Linked DNA regions of Homo sapiens. The protein of the gene in region 1 purifies or fractionates together with the protein of each later gene. This does not show direct contact. Each region holds a gene or a part of one and is shown in the gene's direction. Other genes may lie near its edges.

Region 1 (3,500 bases):
ATATCATGCTTATGCTTTATGTCTTCATAGCTTAGCTCCCACTTAAGTGAGAACATACAATATTTGGCTTTCCATTCCTGAGTTACCTCACTTCGAATAATGGCGTCCAGCTCCATCCAAGTTGCTGCAAAAGATATCATATCATTTCTTTTTATGGCTGAGTAGTATTCCATGGTGTATATATATACCACATTTTTTTATCCACTCGTTGATTGATGGGCACTTAAGTTGGTTCCATATTTTGGCCATTGTGAATTGCGCTGCTATAAACATACCTGTGCAGTTGTGTTTTTCATATGATGACTTATTTTCCTTTCAGTAGCTAGCCAGGAGTGAGATTGCTGGATCCAATGCTACTTTTAGTTCTTTAAGGATTCTCCATACTGTTTTCCATAGTGGTTGTACTGATTTACATTCTCGCCAGCAGTGTAAAAGTGTTCCCTTTCACCACATCCATGCCAACATCTGTTGTTTTTTGACATTTTAATTATAGCCATTCTTGCAGCAGTAAGGTGGTATCTCATTGTGGTTTTAATTTGCATTTCCCTGATGATTAGTGATGTTGAACATTTAGAAATAGTAATTTAAAGCAGTCCTTAATAATACTTTTGAAAATGAAACAGTTGTTCCACATTAAGACATTTATTTAAAAAACTTACATTTTGTAACACTCAAAAACATTTGCTCTCCTGATTTTAATTTTTCCATAGTGCATGTACATATAGTGACACTTTACTTATGTGGAAGTAACTTACATGCTAACTCAGGACAGCCAAGATCCCCAAATTATGCTAAAATGTTGCCTGGGCAGAAACATAGGTGTTAAAAATGTGTATACACAGCCGGGCACGGTGGCTCACGCCTGTAATCCCAGCACTTTGGGGAGGCCGAGGCGGGCGGATCACGAGGTCCGGAGAATGGCGTGAACCTGGGAGGCGGAGCTTACAGCGAGCTGAGATCGTGCCACTGGACTCCAGCCTGGGCGGCAGAGTGAGACTCCGTTTCAAAAAACAAAAGAAAAAAAAAATGTGTGTACACTTAACACTTACCAGAAAGCTCCTTGGGTCCTCTCTAAGGGCCCAACATATTATTTCAGCAAATTTTGCTTATAGTTTTCCCATCATTATTAGCAGATTAATAGCAAATTAGAAAGGGTGAGGGACAAGAATAGGCTATGGAAGATAGGGAGGTAAGAAATAGTGAGATATGGTAGAGAAGAGACAGAAAATGCGGGCAAAGCAGAGGAAGACTTCAAAGAGATTACTAGCCTGAGGTAAGAGTAGGGGTTTAGAGTAGAGGCAGACACTGTGCAATTCGAATAAGCACAGCACTGTGTTTTACAGCACATTTTTTGGAGCCAGACTACCTAAATTCAAGGCCCAACTTCACTTTTTGCTAACTGGATGGTCTTGAACAGGTTATTTACCTGTGTATGCCTCAAGTTCATCTGTATAATATGGATAAGAGTACTTATAAGATTCTCATAGGGACTAAATGGGATAATGCATGCAAAGAACTTAGAGTAGTATCTAATGTTATGTGTTCCATAACTATAAGCTATTATGTTTATTTATAGCACAATAATAAATTTTACCATTTACTGTACCAAGAATTATCCAATACTTAGACTCTTGAAGTGTTTCATTTTAAAGTATGATAGAAATCAGTGTTTTAAAATATTTTAAATTTTAATATTTGCCTTGTACAGTATGCTATAGATCATATTTAAACTTCTAAGAGGTTTATTAAATGCATTTTTTATTAATCCTCTCTTACATAACCATATGTGGTTGAAGTTAGGCATTAAAATTCTTTACACACTACTACACCAAGGCTAGATTTTTGCTTAATCTGAACCTGTCCACTCTCTACTGAGTCCTTGAAAGCAGTGTTTTTCATGTCTGGCTTAAGGCACAGAAGCCTAGTAACCAAAAGAAAAGTTGAGGACCAGTGTGGTAGGCCCATTTTTTTAATGTATTTTTTTTCTCTTTTTCCTTTTCTGAATTTAATTTATAATTGACACAAAAATTGTATATATTTATTATGAACAAGGTATTTTGAAATATGTATACATTGTGGAATAGCTAAATCAAGCTAATTAACATATGCATTACCTCACATACTTATCATTTAGGTGTGTGGAATAGAACACCTACAAACTATTCTTAGAAATTTTCACAATTGGTATGCCCATTTGAAGGCCTTTTACACCATCTTTGTGTGCTTTTCAGTGGCCATGTACAAGGAGCCATCACTGCACGATCTCACGGAGTTCTCCCGATCTGGAAGCGGGACCCCAACCAAGAGCAGAAGTGTCTCTGGCGTGCTGAACGGAGGCAAATCCATGAGCCACAATGAATCAACGTAGCCAGTGAGGGCAAAAGAAGGGCTCTGTAACAGAACCTTACCTCCAGGTGCTGTTGAATTCTTCTAGCAGTCCTTCACCCAAAAGTTCAAATTTGTCAGTGACATTTACCAAACAAACAGGCAGAGTTCACTATTCTATCTGCCATTAGACCTTCTTATCATCCATACTAAAGCCCCATTATTTAGATTGAGCTTGTGCATAAGAATGCCAAGCATTTTAGTGAACTAAATCTGAGAGAAGGACTGCCAAATTTTCTCATGATCTCACCTATACTTTGGGGATGATAATCCAAAAGTATTTCACAGCACTAATGCTGATCAAAATTTGCTCTCCCACCAAGAAAATGTAAAAGACCACAATTGTTCTTCAAAAACAAACAAAACAAAACAAAACAAAATTAACTGCTTAAATGTTTTGTCGGGGCAAACAAAATTATGTGAATTGTGTTGTTTTCTTGGCTTGATGTTTTCTATCTACGCTTGATTCACATGTACTCTTTTCTTTGGCATAGTGCAACTTTATGATTTCTGAAATTCAATGGTTCTATTGACTTTTTGCGTCACTTAATCCAAATCAACCAAATTCAGGGTTGAATCTGAATTGGCTTCTCAGGCTCAAGGTAACAGTGTTCTTGTGGTTTGACCAATTGTTTTTCTTTCTTTTTTTTTTTTTTTAGATTTGTGGTATTCTGGTCAAGTTATTGTGCTGTACTTTGTGCGTAGAAATTGAGTTGTATTGTCAACCCCAGTCAGTAAAGAGAACTTCAAAAAATTATCCTCAAGTGTAGATTTCTCTTAATTCCATTTGTGTATCATGTTAAACTATTGTTGTGGCTTCTTGTGTAAAGACAGGAACTGTGGAACTGTGATGTTGTCTTTTGTGTTGTTAAAATAAGAAATGTCTTATCTGTATATGTATGAGTCTTCCTGTCATTGTATTTGGCACATGAATATTGTGTACAAGGAATTGTTAAGACTGGTTTTCCCTCAACAACATATATTATACTTGCTACTGGAAAAGTGTTTAAGACTTAGCTAGGTTTCCATTTAGATCTTCATATCTGTTGCATGGAAGAAAGTTGGGTTCTTGGCATAGAGTTGCATGATATGTAAGATTTTGTGCATTCATAATT
Region 2 (3,500 bases), on another chromosome or scaffold:
AATTGGAATCTTATTCTACAGAGTATTCTTATATAAATTCTTCAAAAAATTGTAACAATTTTGGGGGACACAACACAAATCAGACTGAATGTATTACAGTCTTCAGAATTATTTTATGTGAGTAGGTTTTAAAGAAATTAGTTTGTGAGCAAAAGCTACAATGGCATTTGAAATTGTATCTAAATATTTATAAGTTAAAACAATTTATGTTCAGACAGAGGGATAAATTGGAAGAAATCTTGCGGGGATTAACTCCAAGGAAAAATGATATTGGAGATGCAATGGTTTTCTGTCTTAATAATGCTGAAGCTGCTGAAGAAATAGTGGATTGCATTACTGAGTCGTTGTCCATCTTAAAGACACCCCTTCCTAAAAAGGTATGGGAATGAATTTTAAGAAAAGGGGAGATAGTTGACGTCTTTTGGGATTAGAATTGGTTTCCTTTTTGCACAAAGCACTTGACTGATGAGATTTTTCCCATGCAGTCTTATGTTATTTCTGCTTGGAAATTTAGGTTCATTAACATACAAGTTAACAAACAAGTTGAAATGTAAATGGGTTAACAAATTTCATCTCTGCCAGAGTCATAGTTGTGGTGATACTGAGCTTCATATAACTCTTCTAATTAGTAGCCATAATTAAATTATAGCTAAACATTAGCCTTATATTAACCTATTTTGTGTTATCTTTTGATATTATAGATTGCCAGATTATATTTGGTTTCTGATGTTTTGTACAACTCTTCAGCCAAAGTTGCTAATGCTTCATATTATAGAAAATTGTAAGTATAATGATATAACTGATATTCCTGAAATAAAGTATTTAAGGGTAAGGAGTTCAGAAAAGAGGATTGTTTTGTTAACATCCTGCAAGAATAAGAAGTACAGTCAGCCCTCCATGTCTGTGGGTTCCTTATCCATGAATTCAACCAACCATGAATTGAAAATATTTGAGAAGAAAAATTGTATCTGTACCGAACCTGTACAGACTTTTTTCCTTGTCATTTTCTAAACAATATAGTATGAAAACTCTACATAGCATTTACATTGTATTAGGTATTGTAAGTAACCTAGAGATGATTTAACAGATGGGAGGATGAGGATAGGTTACAGGTGAATATTATGCCATTTTCAATCAGGAACTTGAGCATCTGTGGATTTTGGTGTCCATGGGAGGTCTTGGAACCAGTCCCCCCATGGATACTGAGGGAAGACTAATTTGAATTTCTTAATGGTTTGTAGAATTTTTTAAAAAATTGGCTTACACTTAAGCTAAATTACCAATTTTTTGGAAAGATTTTATATCATATCACTTTCTTAGCTATTGACAGTATAACAAATAGGTGTTAAAGAGAACTTTATTGCATATCTAGCTATTCATATAATAAATAGAAACAGTGTATATACTGGCAAACATAAGAGACCAAAGACATACTATTAACTATAGAATCTGTGTTCTCTTCTGATCCTCAGCATATTGATTTTAGTTCATTGTAAATGTTTCCTAAGGCAAAAGGAAGTTACGTTGCTGTATTATAATTAATGTATAATTCAGCTGGGCACAGTGGCTCACGCCTGTAATCTCAGCACTTTGGGAGGCCAAGAAGGGCTGATTACCTGAGGTCAGAAGTTCGAGACCACCCTGGCCAACGTGGTGAAACCCCATCTCTAGTAAAAATACAAAGATTAGCTGGGCGTGGTGGTGTGCCTCTGTAATCCCAGCTACTCGGGAAGCTGAGGCAGGAGAATCGCTTGAACCCGGGAGGCGGAGGTTGCAGTGAGCCGAGATGGCACCATTGTCCTCTAGCTTGGGTGACGAGCAAAACTCCATCTCAAAAAAAAAAAAGTATAACTTTTCCTCTGTTCCCCAGAGCTCTCTTTCTGTGTTTATTTTATGAATTAGGCAAAGGGAAGCTTTTCCCTAGGATGTTGCTCTGAAAAGAAATTTAGAGAGCTGGATCCTACTCTTAGGTCTGCTATTAGTTTTTTTGCCTTGGACGAGTCACTTTTCTAAGTTTTCTGTTTTATAAAATAAAGAAATTGGACGAGATGGTTCAGCATATCCTAGATATAACGTTTCTTGCTCGTAAAGGGAACTAGTAGGGACTGTTGGGGAGTTTGTAGGAGAAAAATTCAGAGTAATAAGAGTTCAAGCAATTCAGTTACGGTTTTAGAGTTTAAACACCTAGTTTTTGATTTTTAATAATTTCTTGATTTGTAAGTATTTTAAGTTCAGGAGGGGTTTTCATTGGCTGGCATGCTAAAAGGGAAAGGAATTTTAAACATTTTATTTTAAAGAATGTGTTATTTGAATTTCAGTTTTGAAACAAAGTTATGTCAGATATTTTCAGACCTCAATGCCACCTATCGTACAATTCAAGGCCATTTACAATCTGAAAACTTTAAGGTACGTTTATTGTTTTACTATTTTTGCCCTAGTGTTTTAAATGGGTGGGGGGAGGGCATTGAAGGGCTAGAAAAGTGCATAAGACAAGTATGAGACATAAATTTAAAACTTAGATGTTACAGAAGTTACTGTTTTAAAATTCTGTCGTTTTTGTTTTTATCAAATCAAAAATTTAAAAGATACTATTTTGTCAGGTTTAATTTTAGTTTTAAATATTGTTTAAAAATTATAAATGTTAGTCTTTTTTCATAAAACATACAGAAGAATCACTTGTTTTGTAATGGTATATACTATTTGGCTGGATTAAAGACATACATTTTAATCATGTTTAGAAAGTCTATTCTGTTACCAATTTTTTTATAACCTCTTAAGCTCTAGACCAGTGTTAAGAAAAGCCAAGTGTAGTACTTCACTTATAATTGAATAAGTAAATATGCTTTCATGGGAAGAAGACTTTTTTAAGAAAAATTTTTAGTTTCGGAAGATGCCCAGTGACGCCACCATTTAGGGCATTCAGACAACTCCCATTTTAAAAGTTTTTGACCTTAAATTTTGACCATAAGTTAGAATTTAAAGACAAGTTTCAGGAAGATACAGAGTAAAGTATTAGCCAGAATTAGGAAGTACTTTATTGGACCATAAGGGATTCAGGTCAAAACTTGGCTACTTTGGTTTCCAGTTTTAGTAAGTTTCTATGTAAGTGTTTCTGGAATGTGGCTCATGGGTAGTACTAATGGTATGGGAGCTGACCTTAGGTGGTAAAGAGCAAATAGTTACTGTTTATTTTTCATTATATTTATTTTTAGGGGTTTTTTTCCTTTTAATTAGAAGGTGACATTGATTTTTTTAAAAAATATGGTAATGATATATAGTTATTTTCTTTAAAGTTTAAAAAAACATCAGTTTAAAGGCAAATTTAGCAAATCTTGATGATCATTCTCATGAACTGAAATTTGAGACATATAGCCCAAAATAAAAGTTTGTTGTCTGTTTCCTGTTTCTTTAGCAACGGGTAATGACTTGCTTCAGAGCATGGGAAGATTGGGCAATTTATCCAGAACCATTTTTGATCAAACTACAAAATATTTTCTTAG
Region 3 (3,107 bases), on another chromosome or scaffold:
GTTTGCAAGCCCATTGGTTTCTGTAATTCAGAGATCATAGTTTGGTGACCTGTGGGCCAGGCCGATTTTTCTGGCCTCAAGAGTTTGAAAAAAATTGAATTAGTTGCTGTCTTTTAAATATTGAAAGAATTCATCTGAAATTCACATTTCCCGCTTTTCTTGAAATACTGGGAGGTTTGGTGACATTGGCTTGTATTTTACATGACAGTAGTCAGTCAGTTGCTGCCTCCTCTACATGAGGCAAGAGCTCTGCAGTTTTCCATGAGCCCTTTCCTTCTGAGTAGGATGGAGATAACTTTTGGCCTTATTAAATAAAATGGCCATTTACTTTTTCTTCCCTCACACTTCTCACCTGTCCCCAGTCTTCACCCCACCAGCCTTTTTTTTTAAAAGGAAAAAAGGAGAAAACAATTCTTTGTCACTCTTCATAATGATTATTTTATGGCATGTTTTCCTTAGCAGTTTTGCTAAGGAAAGATGTTTCCTTTGTGGAGAAGGATGAGGAATGAGCTTATCCCAAAGGCTTAAGAAAGGAGACTCATAGTGGGCTTCTGGAGAGTGGGTATTGGGATGTGAGCCTAATTGCTACCTTCGTAGGCCCTTGCCTATGTGTTTTGGCGAGTGTGAACTAATTCCAAATCATTAAGGATTCATTTACACGCCATGGGTATAGACATGTATTCTGTCCTGAATGGCCTTTCCTTGTTTTTCATCCAGGCCAGTAGCTGAAGAGTTGAGCTGTGTTCTAAGTCTGTGGAGAATGACTCCATGCTTCAGTCCTCTGGCTCCCATGACTAAGATATACTTAGTTGCATTATCAGTGGGTTGGGATTTGATCACACTGAACTGGAGTTCTTCAGCTTAGCTTTCTCTCTGGAGTCTATGCCTGTATTGCTAAATGTATACCAAACCTCTCTGAGGTGGATTTAGTTGGATAATGTTGACATTACAATGGGAATTTAGAATTTGTTAAGTGACTGGATTGGTTGGTTAGTTTCAAATCTTATACCTTAATATATGGGTTAAGAATGAATCATTCTCTGAGTATAATCTAATTATTTTTGAGTTACACAGATGTGGTGGTATCTTTACATTTTTTGTGTTTGTGATTTAGATCTGCTACTGAACTTTTTGAGGCATATAGCATGGCAGAAATGACATTCAATCCTCCTGTTGAATCTTCAAACCCCAAAATAAAGGTATGGGATATTTTTCATTTTTTTAAAGGAAGAAATAGAAACCAATGTATCTCAATAACTCTAACTCCAGTTTGCTTAATTATTTTATAGGTAGTTTTTTTTTTAATGTTTAGGATTTCATCATAGGATGGATTTCTGAGGTTGAAATTCTATAGAGATGATCATGAAACTGTTCGTTCAATATAGGATATGTCCAAGACCTTACCAAGCATCTGTCATTGTGTTGCATGTGTTGGTGTCAGCTGTTGCCATTTTCAACTTGGTTCACAGGTTGGCTTTAGCTTATAGCATAAGTAACTTCTAACTCATACTTTAAATATTTTCCTAGGGTAAATTTTTACAAGGGGATTCATTTTTGAATGAAGATTTAAATCAGCTAATCAAAAGATACTCCAGTGAAGTTGCTACTGAATCGCCTCTGGATTTCACGAAATATTTGAAAACATCACTACACTAGTAGAGGAATGAAGTCAGTGGACTTTCTTGTATATTTGTGTGTGCAGATGTACATAAAGATGAGTTGTTAACTTAGGATCTTTTCTTTTTATACAAGGAAAGCTTCCTAAGAATGTCTAGGAAGAAGAGGAAGAATGACCCTTTGCATGGCACAGGGTTCTGCCCCTATTCTGAATATGTCATTCCATCAAGGAGATCAAAAGCCTTTTTTTCTCCCCAGTATTTGGAAATTACTTTCTTGATGATGCTGCCTTTTAAAAGCTTCACGTACATTATAGTTTTTTAAAAAAATCTTTGGACTGGATCTTACTGAAGTGCAGTTGCTATATTAAAATTAGGGCATAGAGCACAGAAAAATCAAGACCATGAGAAGACATTTTACCATTTAGCTACTTTTTATAACTAAATACTCTTTAAATATTTTTATTTCAATACTGTGGATGGAAATGAGAAGCATTCTAAATTTGAGTTAATATATTTTTATGAAGATATTTGAGAAAAGAAAAAAATAGCTTGTATTCAGGTTCATTGGCTTTTGCTGGATGATCCACCTAAAGAAGTTACCTAATTTGGCCTTTTAAAAAAGGTGTTAGTGTTTATTATAGCTACTTTCAAGGAAAGTTTGAATATGATTCTAGTCTCTAAAGTTCTTCACGTTTTCTGACATTCCCTGGAGGGTGACTGGGGAAGAATTGCTCCAGGGTAGAAGAACCAGGCCCAAGACTTTACCATTCTGATCTAGAGACAAAGGATACTCAATGAGGAGCTTTTTTCCCCTCTTGGAACAGGTAAAATGCTTTTTCTTATTAATATAATTATAAAACAGTATTTTATGTAACAGCTATTCCCATATTCTAGGAGTGGCCTAAGAAATGCGTGTTTCAGTGACTAGATTATAAATATTCTCTATTGTGAATAGTTGAATAAAACAGCTGTTTTTTTCTGCTTCCTATTCTTGTGATATGATAATTTTTTGAAAAAAGCACAGCAGTCCAACTAAAGAGATCTCTTACTGTTTGAAAGTCATAGCAGCCAGTTATTTTACTCTGGAGCTTAGAGTTCTTTTTTCACATGAAGTAAACGAAAGTAGAAAATTCCTTTACCATTCCAGCAGAGTGAGAGGATATGAGCTTAACAGTGTATGTCAGTCTTTTAGCATATTATATATGATTTTTAAAAGTGGTTCTGAGGTCACATTTTTTAAGGCTTGATTATTTAATGAGAAAGGTATGATTCAGCATATGAATATTTGCTTTTAGTCCACCTTTTAGGTATAAAACAAAGTCCAGGAATGTGATAAATATTTGTGTGGATAACCAAAGGGTCTAATCCCCATCAGAGCACAAGTGACCAATACATGTCACAAATTATTTATTTTCCACACATATACAAATACATTTATACTTTACTTTGGCAGCAGAAACTATACTTCTGGTGAAAAATCAGCTTAAA
Region 4 (3,500 bases), on another chromosome or scaffold:
AAATTACTTTATTTGTTGCCTGGATTTATATTCATACTGTTCTTTCTGTGTAAAAATGCCTCTACTCACTTTGCATATGCAGATCAAATGATCTCTTTCAAGTTGCATGCCTCCACCTCTCTCAAAAGATATAAGGCCCTCTTTACTTGATTTTCATGAACTTCCTTAAGCTGTGTAGTTTTTTTTACTTTGGTTTATTTGTGAATGCATCTCTTATCTCCACCTGGCTGTGAGTCCTGAAGGGTAGACACTATTTTTTTGTATCCTGGAAACAGACTGGCACACACTAGGCATATAATAAATGTTCATTGTATCGTTGTACCTATCTAGATTTCTAAGGTGAAAGGGAAGAACAACACACACTTATCATTACATTAATTTCACTTGAATCTTCTGTTTCTTCCACTTCAGTGCAAATACTTCTATAACTTCCTTGATGCCTTCCTTCCCACAGCATCTTTTTCTTGTCGTCTTTACTTCATTTATTCCATTCCTGATGTTCTTCCTTTCTTGAAAACGATCAGTTTCTGACCTATGTCATTTTTCTTCTCTCTGAAGAGATTATTTCGCATTTCTTGCAGACAGGTCTACTGGCAACAAATTCTCTCCATTTTCTTTTGTCTGAGTAAGTCTTTTCCTTCACTTTTGAAGGATAAGTTTATCGGATACAGGATTGTAGGTTGGTGATTTTTTTTTCTTTTAAAAATTTAAATATTAAATATCTCACTTCACTCCCTTCTTGCTTACATGGTTTCTGAAGAGAAGTCTTGGAAATCTCTCTCAATCTACTCTGGTTTGGGAGGGTGCCTATTAAAAACAAAAGAGAGAGAGATTTGATGTAATCTCATCCTTGTTCCTCTATAGGTAAAATTTTTCCCCTGTCTGGCTTCTTTCAAGATTTTATCTTTGATTTTCTGCAGTTTGTCTATGATATGACTGGTTGTAAATTGTTTAGTATTTATCTTATTTGGTCTTCTCTGAGTTCCTAGATCTGTGGTTTAGTGACTGTCATTAGTTTTGAAAAATTCTCAGCCCTTATTACTTCATTATCTTTTCTGTTGCTTGCTTTCTTCTTGTATTCTCCTTCTACATAGGTTACACCTTTGATAATTGTCCCACCTACTGACTTTTGAATTTTGGGCATGCACTCTCCCTTATTTCTGTGTTATGGGAAGGGGAATGGTTATTTTGTGCCCCCCACCCAGTAACCATCTGTTACTGTGGCAGGGCTTGTGATCTACATGTATTCACTTTCCTCTAGTCTCCAATTGTGTGGGGGAAGAATTCCTCTTCTTTCATCTAGCTCACATAAAGCTCATCTTCTGCTGAGTATTTGCAGCAAACAAAGCTCATCCAGAAACCAGATGGCATTTTCTTGTTTTATGCAGCAAAAAATGAGATCCAAGCCTGCAACTGGTGAGCCTCAGAAGGGGCAACCAGAGCCTGCAAAAGACCAGCAACAGAAGGCAGCTCAACACCACACAGAGGAACAAAGCAAGGTGCCCCCAGAGCAGAAGAGAAAGGCGGGCTCTACCTCATGGACCGGGTTCCAGACCAAGGCTGAAGTGGAGCAGGTGGAGCTGCCTGATGGAAAGAAGAGAAGAAAGGTCCTGGCGCTCCCCTCACACCGAGGCCCCAAAATCAGGTGAGATGCAGGAGGGCAGAAGCACAGAACAGTGGGTGGGTTCTAAGCGGGTTTGTTTTTGCTGAGTTATTTTCTCTTTGTGGCATTTGTTTGGTTGAAAAGGATGTTTGGTGCTATGTATTCCCACACATGGGGTTAACACGCGAGTCTTCAACACCATCAGAGATGTCACTCTTAGATCAATGGCAGAGGGGCCTCCTAGGGCAGGCTTTTGTGCCCCTTTTCTCCTCTTTTGAAGAGCTTCCTCTTGTCCAGATGGCCATCTCTGCCAGCTGAGACCACATACTTGAGGTTCAGTTGTAGTTTCTGTTTGGGACAGCAGATTAGTGCTCTACAAAAGTAAATCTTTACAAAATATTTGTTAAATAAATGAAGGTTTTTGAGATATCCATGGGGTTTTATTTATTTATTTATTTTATTTTTAGAGACAGTGTATTATTCAGTTCTTCCACTGCTATAAAGAAATACCTGAGACTGGGTAATTTATAAAGAAAAGAGGCTTGGCTGGGCGCGGTGGCTCACGCCTGTAATCCCAGCACTTTGGGAGGCCGAGGCGGGTGGATCACGAGGTCAGGAGATCGAGACCATCCTGGTTAACATGCTGAAACCCCGTCTCTACTAAAAATACAAAAAATTAGCTGGGTGCGGTGGCGGGCGCCTGTAGTCCCAGCTACTGGGGAGGCTGAGGCAGGAGAATGGCGTGAACCCGGGAGGCGGAGCTTGCAGTGAGCCGAGATCACGCCACTGCACTCTGGCCTGGGCGAAAGAGCGAGACTCCGTCTCAAAAAAAAAAAAGAAAAGAAAAGAGGCTTAATTGGCTCATGGTTCCACAGGCTGTACAGGAAGCATGACAGCAGCTGCTCATCTTCTAGGGAGGCCTCAGGAAACTTAATCATAGTGGAAGGTGAAGTGGGAGCTGGCACATCACATGGCCAGGAGCAGGGGGGAGTGTTTTAAACAACCAGATCTTGTGGTAACTCATTCACCGTCACGAGAACAGCACTGAGGGGATGGCGCTAAACCATTCATGAAGGAGTCATCCCCATGATCCAGTCACCTCCCACCAGGCCCAGCCTTCAACACTGGGGATTACAATTCAACGTGAGATTTGAGCAAGGACACAGATCCAAACCATGTCACAGGGTCTTGCTCTGTTGCCCAGGCTAGAGTGCAGTGGCATGATCATAGCGCACTGTAACCTCAACTCCTGGACTCAATCCACCTTCCTCAGCCTCCTGAGTAGCTGGGACTTTTTAATTTCGTTGTAGTAGAGACGGGGGATTGCTATGTTGCATAGGCTGGTCTCAAACTCCTGGCATCAAGCAGTCCTAAGTATACAAATGTTGAGCTTTCAGAGGGTCTGTTGCAGTATCCCTTTTTAGAATGACTTCACTTATCATGGGCTTGGGAAGGGCCAGTGTACAAAGAGAACCTAGGGGTGTCAAATTAGAAGAAGGACTCAAGGTGACACTCAGCCATGTTATTTCAGGTTGCGGGACAAAGGCAAAGTGAAGCCCGTCCATCCCAAAAAGCCAAAGCCACAGATAAACCAGTGGAAGCAGGAGAAGCAGCAATTATCGTCCGAGCAGGTGAGTTCTGCAGGACATACAGCTTTGGTATGGCATGGTTCTGCCAGGTCGTAGCCATGTTTGTACCTTGGTTAGTTGAGCAAAAAAGAAAAAAAGAAAGACTTCTGTGTAGGACGGTAGCTTTTTAGAGAATGTTGAGCTATACAATCTTAAAAGTGGAGAGAAAAAAGTAAAATGAACCTCCACGTATCTGTTCCTGTGTTTCAGCAGTCTCCTTGTTTTACATATTCCCCATAACATGCTTTCCCCACTAGAGTATATTAAAG
Region 5 (4,196 bases), on another chromosome or scaffold:
TTGGGCACTGTCATTGTGAAAATAGACCTGTGAAAGCTGAGTGGGCTCATATCTTTTGTCCTATCTTGATAGACACAAGCTGGATGTTGTTTCCTGTGGCAAGTCCACAGTCCGAGTGCAGAAGGCCATCTGCAGTGGGTTCTTCCGTAATGCTGCCAAGAAAGACCCGCAGGAGGGTTACCGGACACTGATCGACCAGCAGGTGGTCTATATCCATCCTTCCAGTGCCCTCTTCAACAGACAGCCAGAATGGTAGGTGGACATGTCCCAGGGTCTAGGGGCTTTTCTGGGCAGAGAAAAACCTGTAAATTTCCTGGTATTTTGTGATTGTGTCTTCACTACTCCCAGTATGTCCTAGTATAACACTGCTTGCCTTTCTAGAGCAGCAGAAACCTGAATTAGGCACAATGTATCAAACCCTATGAGAGAATTAAAATCATAGGGGTGAGACCTAGTTGAAAAAAAAAATTGTGGTTTAAAAAACTACGTAGTGGCCAGGCACAGTGGCTCATGCCTGTAATCCCAGCACTTTGGGAGGCTGAGGTGGGCAGATCAGCCGAGGTCGGGAGTTCAAGACCAGCCTGACCAACATGGAGAAACCCTGTCTCTACTAAAAATACAAAATTAGCCAGGTATGGTGGCGCATGCCTGTAATCCCAGCTACTTGGGAGGCTGAGACAGGACAATCGCTTGAACCCAGGAGGTGGAGGTTGCAGTGAGCCGAAATCACCCATTGCACTCCAGCCTGGGCAACAAGAGCGAAACTCCATCTCAAAAAAAAAAAAAAAAAAAAACCAACTACCTAGGGGCTAGGCATGGTGGCTCACGTCTGTAATCCCAGCACTTTGGGAGGCCGAGGCAGGTGGATCACCAGAGGTCAGGAATTCCAGGCCAACCTGACCAACATAGTGAAACCATGTCTCTACTAAAAATACAAAGTTAGCCAGGCGTGGTGGCAGGCACCTGTAATCCCAGCTACTTGGGAGGCTGAGACATGAGAATAGCTTGAACCCGGGAGGCAGAGGTTGCAGTGAGCTGAGATTGTGCCATTGTACTCCAGCCTGGGAGACAGAGTGAGACTCCGTCCCAAAAAAAAAAAAAAAAAGAAAGAAAAAAACAACTACCTAGTGATGTAGTTTAAAAAAAAAAACTTGTTTTAAAGTAGCATTTTTAAAAAATTGGACTCTATCTAGAACCCTAATATAAAACTGATTTAAAACCACCATGTTATCACAGTAGAAGGGTTAGAAATGTGGCTCCTTGCATGTTTGGCCTTCTCCATCCCTTGTGGCAGTGTGAGGCCCCTCTTCAGAGCCCTAGAATTCTGTGGAAACATTCTAATAAACATCCTCACATTTTATAGAGCAAGAAACAGATTAGAGAAGGGATGTGATTGGCTCCATGTCACTTAACTAGTTAGAGCCAGAGCCAGGACTAGAATACATTCTCCTGAGACCTTTCTTGTGGTTAGAGGTGTGCGGGTGCTTCAGTATTGGGGTGTGGCTGTCATAAACAGACTGCAGTCTTATAGGTGTCAGGCAGGAGAGGTAATAGTATAAAATGTAAGCTCAGCTGAGGCCTACTAGGGACCAGGTTGACTGTAGAGTGGGGCCTATATCCAGAGGCTTGAGTACTATCTCTGTCCCCCCTCAGGGTGGTGTACCATGAGCTGGTGCTCACCACCAAGGAATACATGCGTGAAGTTACCACCATCGACCCTCGGTGGCTTGTGGAGTTTGCCCCAGCCTTCTTCAAGGTCTCAGACCCAACTAAGCTAAGCAAACAGAAGAAGCAACAGCGTCTTGAACCCTTGTACAACCGCTATGAGGAACCCAATGCCTGGAGAATATCTCGAGCTTTCCGACGGCGCTGAAAGGCAAGATTGTTCCTTTGCCTCTCCAGCAGCAGTAGCCAGGGCTTGGACTTATCGATGACAGGCTGGTCCTGAGGATACAGCTGTCCCGTGACTGACTGTCTTAACTGAGCATTTTCTCAACTCGACTCTCATTTCTTCCCTGCTGGTAAAATAGAAACAGGGATTTAAACCTGGCTTTGGCAAGAGCCTGCAGCCTCCATCACCCCAAGTCCTTGGGCCCAGTTGGGAGCTCATATCTAACACAGAGACACATTGCATCAACTTCAAGAAAGGGACAATTTGTGCAGCTCCAGGATGGGAAGGTGGAGTGGGTGAGCATCTTGTGCAGGGACATGGTGAGTGCCCTGATGCCCCAGCTAGCAGGAGCTACTGTGCTCATCTAAAGTGTTTGCCCCACTTCCCACCCCGTCTCCAGCCCCTGTACTTTGGCTTGACCTCGTGGAAATATTTATTTTCTTAAGGAAACAAAAATGGTTTTCTGTGACTGTTTTCTTTTAGCCGAAAGGTTAGGATATTGGCCTGGGCTCAGGGTGAGGGAGATTTAGTATCTGTGCTCTGGCACACATGATGAGAATCCCCTGAATCCCCTGAAACCAGAACGCAGGGCCTCTTTGCGCTCGGAAACGACGTACAACCCAGACTTCCAGCCTTGTCTTTCAGCATCAGCACTAGCCGGGCCGTGCTGGGGGATCACCCGATGATCAACCATGTCCTCTCCACAGAGCACTTCAGTCTGGAGGCCTGAGTGGCTACAGATGGCACATATTAAATACAGAAGGTTTCCCCTTGCTCCCTCCACCTCCCACATTCGCAATGTGCAGCATGTCCCATTTCCTTTTGAAACATACTAAGTAACAACACAGCTTTTATTTTATTTTGTTTTTATTTTTTTCCCCTGAGGTCCTGGATGGACTTTAACAAAGGGATTTTATGGTCAAAACCTCCCTTTCCCCACTCCAAACAGAAAACAAACATAACACCTCTCCTCTCAGCTGGTTTGTGCTGCCAGTATCTGTGCTGCAGGGCTTGTTCTTAGTGGTTTTTTCCTAGCACTTGCTTGGAGAATAGCCACCTCCTTGTGCCCTCCTCACAGCTCCTGAGGAGGGTTTTTTTTTTTTCTTCCCATAGAGATGGGTTCCCACTGTGCTGCCCAGGCTGCTCTCCAATCCCTGGCGTCAAGCAATCCTCCTGCCTCTGCCTCCCAAAGCGCTGGGATTACAGTTGAGAGCCACTGTCCTCTGCACTGAGGAGGCTCCTTACCTGGCGGAACATCAGGCAGGTCTTGCCAGGCCAGGTTTCGGAACTTACGGAAAGCTGGTCTGGATGTAGTGCTTGTAGAGAAGCTTCTGAGAGATTGGGCACATCCTGTTACGTTGCTGCTTCTCCTGTCCTTATGTTATTAGTAAGTTCTGAAGTGATGTAAATGCTAGAACTACTGTAGAACTGTATGCCAGACACTAAGAGAGACTATGTAACATTCCAGGATATAAAGGAATGTATGTTGTCACTGGGCAGCAAACCACACCCTAAAGACAATTCAGAAAGAGTCCGAGGGAGAGGAATATAGGCCAGGCAATCTGCTGGCTGCAGATCCCTGCCCCTTCATTAAGCTGAGTGCCTCCTGATTCTGTCTGAGTATTCGCCTTTGTAAGCCCAGGCCAGTAATCAAGGGGCAGGGCATTGTTGTGTGTTAACCTTGAAGGCCTTCTGGGGAGAGACAGTACAGGGACCTCAAATGAAACCAAAGGGGAAACGGGGACTGGGCACCCACCTCCCCAATCTCGTTTTGTTTTTGTTTTTGTTAAGACAGGATCTTGCCATCTTGCCTAGGCTGGCATCAAACTCCTGAGCTCAAGTGATCTTCCTGCCTCAGCCTCCTGAGTAGCTGGGACTACAGGTGCATGCCACCACACCTGGCTCCCAGTCCTAATTCCAGCCTAAATTTTCCCCATTCAGAAACACTCCTGGATATAGTGGCCCAGCCTGTCCTGACTGAGTGCCCAGCACTGACAATGTTGACACCTGGGGAGGGAGGGTTGGGTTTCAAGCTGAGGTTGAAAAGGGATGTTGAATGGGCTAAGGATAAGAGACAGCAGGGTTCGTTATCTTTTCTGGCTCAGGTGGAGGAAAAAGAAGGATCCCCATTCTGTGGGTGTTCCTTGACCATCTCTCTACGCTAGAGCTGAGGTCACTTCTCTGCTATGACAACATAGCTGGGTTCTGACCTTTTGACCATCAGGAAAGCAATGTCAGCAGCTGAGCTGAGCCTGCTCTGAGGGAGAAGGGGGGGGTCCTGTCCAGATGCAGAAGGGGAGCTTGC
Region 6 (3,500 bases), on another chromosome or scaffold:
GGTTTCATAGGTGACCAGTGAGATTTGGTGGTTTGTTTTCGTATCATTTGTTATTATAAGCTTATGGGCTCAAACGTATTTATTTTGGTCCATTGCAGTTAATGGATTGGATCAAATTGTCCCACCTTTGGTCAGTGGGACCCTATACATTTCCTGCCCCAGATCTGGAATTGGCCACTTTTAAAAGGAATTCTAGTTCCTTTCTTTTGGGAAATGGTATTTAGATACCAGTCTGAGTTATAGGGGTGCTTTATTGCTACTTGGTTGGTCATTCTTTCTAGATGATTTTTTTGTTTTTTGGTGAGATAAAATACATCATGGAGTTATTCTGTTTTGTTGTTGTTGTTTTTTTTTTTTTTTTTTTTTTTTTTTTTGAGACAGAGTTTCACTCTTGTTGCCCAGGCTGGAGTGCAGTGGCATGGTCTCAGCTCACTGCAACCTCCACCTCCCAGGTTTAAGCAATTCTCCTGCCTCAGCCTTCCAAGTAGCTGGTATTACAGGCATGCACCACCACACCCAGCTAATTTTGTATTTCTAGTAGAGATGGGGTTTCACCATGTTGGCCAGGTTGGTCTCGAACTCCTGACCTCAGGTGATCCACCCACCTCGGCCTCCCAAAGTGGTGGGATTACAGGCATGAGCTACCGCGCCCGGCCTGTTCTGGTATTTTCTATTAAAGGGTCTTTACGTAGACTTGTGGATCTTTTATTTTACCTACTGCTTTCTTCCATGCCCATAATCTTAATTCCTAATGATACCAACATAATTACTCATTTTGTTTTATTTCACAGTATGTCTACCGTCTTTTTTTTTTTTTTTTAAACATTTTTTAAAGAGAGAGGGTCTTGCTCTCACAGGCTAGATTGCAGTGGTGTGATCATGGCTTACTGCAGCCTCAACCGCCTGAAATCAGGCAATCCTCTTGCCTCAGCCTCCTGAGTAGCAGGATTACAGGTGCACACCACGTGTGGCTAATTTTTAAATTTTTTGTAGAGATGAGGTCTTGCAGTGTTGCCCAGGCTGGTCTGAAATTCCTGGGCTTGAGCCATCCTCTCACTTCGGCTTCCAAAGTGTTGGGATTACAGGCGTGAGCCATTGTGCCAAGCTCTACATTCTTACAATACCTCCACTACCACTGAAAACAGTTTTTCCACTTATACAGTATCTTCAAGTCATTTGAAAGAATCTTTGTGTGGTTTCACATTTAAATTGATATATATATTAGTTTTATTTTGCTTCCAAGTTTTAGAGATTGCTTTCTCCCTACCCCTATAATTTTCTAAGTTGTTTTACATTTGTGTAAAACATTTACGTGGTTCTAGAGTCTCAGCATGGTATAGTCATAGAAGTCTGACTTAAATTCTGTCACTTACACCCTTTCTTCTCTTACAGGCAAACTTTTTAGAACCTTTCCATTTAAGAAAAAAGCAAATGCCTCTACATGTATTTGTATCCTTGGTAAATGGAAATATACAACACATGGCATTTCTTCAATTCTTTTTTGTTTTAACTTAATATATCTGGGAGCTAACTGCAAAGTAGCAGTATATAATAGAAAGATATTCCTCATTCCTGTGTACAGTTGCATAGTTCACCATTGTGTGGAATGCTCCATGTTTTTTCAACTGCTGCTCCTATAGATGGATGTTTTGGTTGTTTTTTTGAGACTAGGTCTTGCTCTTTTGCCCAGGCTGGAGTTAGTACAGTGGTGTTATCAAAGCTCACTGCAACCTCAACCATCTAGGCTCCCAAGTAGCTGGGACCACAGATGTATGCCAGCGCCACCTTTTTACGATTTGTAGTGATAGAGTCTCGCTATTTTGCTCAGGCTGGTCTTGAACTCCTTTGCTCAAGCGATCTACCCACCTTGACCTCCCAAAATGTTGGGATTACAGGTGTGAGCCACTGTACCCAGCCTGCTTTTTTGATTAATATTTTGTGGGTTTATCCACCTCAGCACATGTAAAGTTGGTTGTTTTTTTGTTTGTTTGTTTGTTTGTTTGTTTGAGACGGAGTCTCGCCCTGTCGCCCAGGCTGGAGTGCAGTGGCACCATCTCGGCTCACCACAACCTCCACCTCCTGGGTTCAAGCGATTCTCCTGCTTAACCTCTCGAATAGCTGGGACTATAGGCGTGTGCCACCACAACCAGCTAATTTTTGTATTTTTAGTAGAGATGGGGTTTCACCATGTTGGCCAGGATGGTCTCAATCTCTTGACCTTGTGATCTGCCTGCCTGGGGCTCCCAAAGTGCTAGGATTATAGACGTGAGCCACCAGGCCCGACCTGTAAAGTTTTTTAATGTCTGAGTAGTGTTCCATCATGCATATGCTGTAAATATTTAAATTGCCTATGCGATGGCAAGTTAGGTATTTTATAGTTCTTTTTCTACTCTAGTTTTACTGTGAATGGCTTTTTGTCCAGATATTATACATACTGCTCCCTGTTTGTGCAAGTGTTCTCTAGAGCAGATTACTGGAAGTAGGATTGCAGGCTCAAAGAGTAAAAGGGTAGGTGTATTTATTATGCTGGTACCTCCTACAAGTTTGAACATCTCACATTATCTACCAGTCGTGGAAGATGGTGTCAATTTTCTTATATTACTGGTAGCATTGGACTCATACCAAGCTCAGGGGAACCCAGTTGTCTACCATTTCCAAGATCTTTCTGTCCAAGATTTTCTTCTTAATCCCCTCTTCCTTCTCCTCCCCTTCAGGCCCTAAAGGACAGCAAGGTGGTGGAGATCGTTGATGAGAAAGTTCGTAGGAGGGAGGAACCAGAAAAGTGGCCTCTTCCCCCAATAGTGGATTATTCACAGACTGATTTCTCCCAGCTTCTCAACTGCCCTGAATTTGTTCCCCGTCAGCACTACCAAAAGGAGACAGGTAGGTACCTGCTGGCATGAAGATTGCCCTTGTCCTCTGGGCAACAGTCCTCCTCAGGGCTGGCATCAGGAGGAGGACTGGAGGGATGAGGACTTCCCCTTTCCACCCTTTAGAGTCGGCACCTGGCTCTCCTCGTGCAGTCACCCCAGTGCCAACCAAAACAGAGGAGGTCAGCAACCTAAAGACACTACCCAAGGGCCTGTCTGCCAGCCTGCCTGACCTGGATTCTGAGAACTGGATTGAAGTGAAGAAGAGGCCTCGGCCATCCCCAGCACGGCCCAAGGTGGGTGAGGCCTTGTCCCTTGCCTTGGTTCTAGCACTCTGAGCTAGGGTGCTTGAAGGGGATAACACATGGGCACAGCACTCTAGCTCTGAGGGGCCAGCAGGAAATCTGGGTAGTTCAGGATCATAGTGTGAGTTGAAGTTACCAGTAGTGGCTACAGAAAGGTTGATTTGGCTTGTTTCCATTTCCTGTGGGGAACCACCCTTTAGGGCGCCCTACTGTGTGAGTTCCTCGGTGACATTTTTCTTAAGGGATCATGCAGCATCTGGCAGCGATGTTTCTGGCTTCTTGATTCTTGGCTCTTCTTTTTGCTCCATCTAAATTTCTGGGGCTG
Region 7 (3,500 bases), on another chromosome or scaffold:
CACCCTCTGTTTTAGTAGAAAACATTGTTCGTTTTGGGTTTACCTGGTGATTCAGTTCATGTAATGCATTCTCATAGGTGATGTGTCCTTCTCCCTACTAAAAGCATATTATGTCTATCTGCCCCTCTGGAGGTGTTAAATTAGAACACCTGGCCAAGGCATTGTCTCTCCACTCTTGTATTTTTCCCCCTTGTAAATAATTTAAGCATTATAAATATTTAAGACCATGCGGATATCCTGCTCCTTGTCAGAATTTCCTCCTAGACGTAGAATTCACTGATGATTCTCTCCTGATCCAGTCTTTACTCTGATAGTTGCAGAGTGCTGACTTTTCCAATTCTGGTATTCCTTCTACATTTATCAACCAGCACTCACATTCTGCTGTAAGCAAGAGGCCTCCCTTTCTCCCCTGTTTGTACCTGTGTAGACTCATGAAATCCTATCTTCAGTGGTTTATAATGTATCACTATACTTAGTTATTACGGTGCTTGAACACTGGATGTTCAAGCTGGGTCTTGCAGCGTGTCCCTACCCTTTTTTTGAGCCTCTCTTTACTTGCTGGTATAGCATGATGCTCATCTTGTATGTTTCCTGCTTTCAGCCTGCAATCAGCCATTTCTTTGAGGAGCTCTGGTTCCTTTTAGTAAATAATGGTAATAGTAGACCCAGAATGGGGTACTAGATGTGCTCATTACCACTGGAGTGTTTTGTTTTTTGGGCTTTCAGCAAACAGAACTAGGAAATCAGGAAATATATGCAAATATATGCATACAGCCATACAGGCTTGAATATACATGCATGCACATATATGTGATTTAGAAATCATAAGTTCACACCAGTACTGCAAATTCATCCCAAGGTTCATTTTCGCCTTCTTCTCTTGCTTATTTTTATGTCCCTTTCTCTAGGAGAGCCCTGAGCCCAACAAAATCAACACATTTACTCAGGTTCTTAATACATCTAAAGTTGTTTCAGAATCGCTTTGTTCATACCTCTACAGAAAACCTGCTAACAGTTGAATTATTTGTACCTCTTCCCACTGCCCCGCCTCCAGCTTTCCCCAGACTGAATGTACTTACGTAGTCAAATACGTTTCTAAGTTGCCTGGATTACTTCTGTATTTCTTTTTTGTTCTCTTCCTGCGATTGTGGTATTCATGGGAAATGCAAATAGGTTGATTTGTTTTGTTTTAGCAGTTTTTCTCCTTTCCCATCCTCACTGATGTTTAATTTTATTCTTTGAATATGTAGAATATTATGTATTTTGTATAGTAAAAACTATTAAAAAGGCTATATACTCGGAGTCTCTCTCTTTCTCCCATCCCTTCTGCTCCATTCTCCACACTCCTCCCTTGTAGGTGATGAACCTCATTGTTCTCTGGTTTATCGTTGCTATAAAGAGAAACACATACGTGCTTGTTTTCCTGTTTTCTTTCCTACACGAAACGTAGCATGTATATTACTCTTTTTCACTTTGACCTTTTGACTTTAGGATATACAGATTGCTCCATATCAATTCAGAAGCGCTCCTCGTCCTTTTTCAGTACTCCGTTGTGTATATGCTCCAGTTTATTTAACCAGTCTTCTGTGCTTGGAGATTTATGTAGGTTTCCAGATTTTGCAGTTACAATTAATGCTATAATGAGTCACTCTGTGCATGTATGTTTTTTATATTGTTGGAGGTGTATCTTCATTATAAATTCCTAAAGTAGGACTTCTGGGTAAATGCATATGTAGTTTTGATAGATATTGGCAAATTCCCCTTAAAAGGGGCTGTGCCAGTTTGCATTCCCAGCAGTGTATGAGAGTGCCTGTTTCCTCCACAGCCTTATCAACAGTGTATTGTCAAGCTTTGAACATTTGCTAATATGACAGGTGAGAAGTGGTGTTTTACAGTAGTTCTTATTTATCTTTCTCTCATTATGAATCAAGTCGAATGTTTAAGGACCATTTAAAAGAATTGTTTGTTCATCTTTTTACCTGTTTTCCTGTATGATTTGTAGTTTATTTTTCTTCAGTTTTTGAAAATGTATCAGTCTTTTGTTGCATATGAGTCATCATTAGAAAGCTTCCTCTATACTCAGGCCAGAGAGGCATTTACCCATGTTTTCTGGCATTTGTACAGCTTTTTTATATTTAGAGCTCTATTCCATATGGAGTTTATTCATGTGTGTATGGTGTGAAGAATGGGATCTAATTGTATCTTTTTTTTTTTTTTTTTTTGTGAGACGGAGTCTTGCTCTGTCACCAGGCTGGAGTGCAGTGGAACGATCTCGGCTCACTGCAACCTCTGCCTCCCAGGTTCAAGTGATTCTCCTCCCTCAGCCTCCCAAGTAGCTGGGATTAGAGGTGCGTGCCATCACGCCCAGCTAATTTTTGTATTTTTACTAGAGACGGCTTAACCATGTTGGCCAGGATGGTCTCGATCTCTTGACCTCGTGATCCGCCCACCTCAGCTTCTCAAAGTGGTGGGATTACAGGTGTGAGCCACTGCACCCAGCCTTAATTTTATCTTTTTCCATATGGCTTCATAGTTGTTACAACACTATTAAAAGGACCATCTTTTCTCTGGTAATTTCAGATATCATCTGTATCATTAATTTCTGTGTCTACCTGGGACAATGTCTGGACTTCCTGTTCTATTCCATTTGCCTGTCTATGTACCAGGACCATACTATTTTAATTATAGACGTTTAATAATATATTTTAATATGCAGGTTGCCTTCTTCCTCATCTCTGCAGTAACTGTCTTCATGGTTTCATAGCCTTCTCCCTGATACCCCTCCCCAGGTACTAATTTTTTCTCTTTAGTTTTGTCTGTCCTCTGCTGATTTTGTCTAACTTTTCATAATAAAAAAAAGTTTTACCTAACTTTTGTCCTACTTATGAATTTTTCTGTCTTCTTCAGAGATTTCTTCTGCCCTCTTGTTTGTTTTTCCATGACTGGGTGACATTGTTTAAAAACTGATTGGTGTTGCCCATGGTTCTGTGCATCATTTCACCCTGCCCTATGCTAAGCTGTTATGCAAGAATAGAAAAGCTCATTGTTCCATTGAAAATCCAGGGTTCTAGCATTTTAACATTAGTTCCACAGGGGCAGAAATTTTGTCATATTCATTGTTGTATCCCTAGTACTTAAAAACCGGTACATGGCACATGGTACCTGTCACACAGTATGTTGTCAGTAAATGTTTGTCAAGTGAATGTTGTTCATTGTTATTCCAGTTTGTTTTTGTTTTTTTTTAAGAGAGTGAATAGGTGTCCTTTTCATTTTCTTGGTTTAGTGTCACATTTGAAGACGAGCACTGAGGATGAGGAACCAACTGAAGAATATGAAAATGTTGGAAATGCAGCATCTAAGTGGCCAAAAGTGGAGGATCCTATGCCTGAATCTAAGGTTGGTGACACATGTGTTTGGGATAGCAAGGTAGAGAATCAACAGAAAAAGCCTGTGGAAAACAGGATGAAGGAGGACAAAAGCAGCATCAGGGAAGCAATCAG

Evidence for each region.
Region 2: the proteins of FGF13 (region 1) and U2SURP purify together in Homo sapiens (affinity purification with mass spectrometry; one large-scale study listed by BioGRID and IntAct). This does not show direct contact.
Region 3: the proteins of FGF13 (region 1) and NOC3L purify together in Homo sapiens (affinity purification with mass spectrometry; one large-scale study listed by BioGRID and IntAct). This does not show direct contact.
Region 4: the proteins of FGF13 (region 1) and RBM28 purify together in Homo sapiens (affinity purification with mass spectrometry; one large-scale study listed by BioGRID and IntAct). This does not show direct contact.
Region 5: the proteins of FGF13 (region 1) and DHX8 purify together in Homo sapiens (affinity purification with mass spectrometry; one large-scale study listed by BioGRID and IntAct). This does not show direct contact.
Region 6: the proteins of FGF13 (region 1) and LARP1 purify together in Homo sapiens (affinity purification with mass spectrometry; one large-scale study listed by BioGRID and IntAct). This does not show direct contact.
Region 7: the proteins of FGF13 (region 1) and ZFP62 purify together in Homo sapiens (affinity purification with mass spectrometry; one large-scale study listed by BioGRID and IntAct). This does not show direct contact.

What each region holds. Positions count from the first base shown.
Region 1 is NC_000023.11:138,631,718-138,635,217, reverse strand, and holds part of FGF13 (fibroblast growth factor 13), read left to right. Parts: intron 1-2,231; coding exon 2,232-2,368; 3' UTR 2,369-3,500. UniProt on the Homo sapiens protein: Microtubule-binding protein which directly binds tubulin and is involved in both polymerization and stabilization of microtubules.
Region 2 is NC_000003.12:143,032,570-143,036,069, forward strand, and holds part of U2SURP (U2 snRNP-associated SURP motif-containing protein), read left to right. Parts: intron 1-214; coding exon 215-377; intron 378-701; coding exon 702-781; intron 782-2,318; coding exon 2,319-2,406; intron 2,407-3,412; coding exon 3,413-3,500.
Region 3 is NC_000010.11:94,332,726-94,335,832, reverse strand, and holds the end of NOC3L (nucleolar complex protein 3 homolog), read left to right. Parts: intron 1-1,114; coding exon 1,115-1,199; intron 1,200-1,527; coding exon 1,528-1,656; 3' UTR 1,657-2,607; downstream 2,608-3,107. UniProt on the Homo sapiens protein: May be required for adipogenesis.
Region 4 is NC_000007.14:128,312,909-128,316,408, reverse strand, and holds part of RBM28 (RNA-binding protein 28), read left to right. Parts: intron 1-1,388; coding exon 1,389-1,645; intron 1,646-3,134; coding exon 3,135-3,234; intron 3,235-3,500. UniProt on the Homo sapiens protein: Nucleolar component of the spliceosomal ribonucleoprotein complexes.
Region 5 is NC_000017.11:43,521,975-43,526,170, forward strand, and holds the end of DHX8 (ATP-dependent RNA helicase DHX8), read left to right. Parts: intron 1-72; coding exon 73-252; intron 253-1,653; coding exon 1,654-1,873; 3' UTR 1,874-3,696; downstream 3,697-4,196.
Region 6 is NC_000005.10:154,796,877-154,800,376, forward strand, and holds part of LARP1 (la-related protein 1), read left to right. Parts: intron 1-2,714; coding exon 2,715-2,883; intron 2,884-2,996; coding exon 2,997-3,166; intron 3,167-3,500. UniProt on the Homo sapiens protein: RNA-binding protein that regulates the translation of specific target mRNA species downstream of the mTORC1 complex, in function of growth signals and nutrient availability.
Region 7 is NC_000005.10:180,851,277-180,854,776, reverse strand, and holds part of ZFP62 (zinc finger protein 62 homolog), read left to right. Parts: intron 1-2,716; exon of another isoform or gene 2,717-2,789; intron 2,790-3,283; coding exon 3,284-3,500. UniProt on the Homo sapiens protein: May play a role in differentiating skeletal muscle.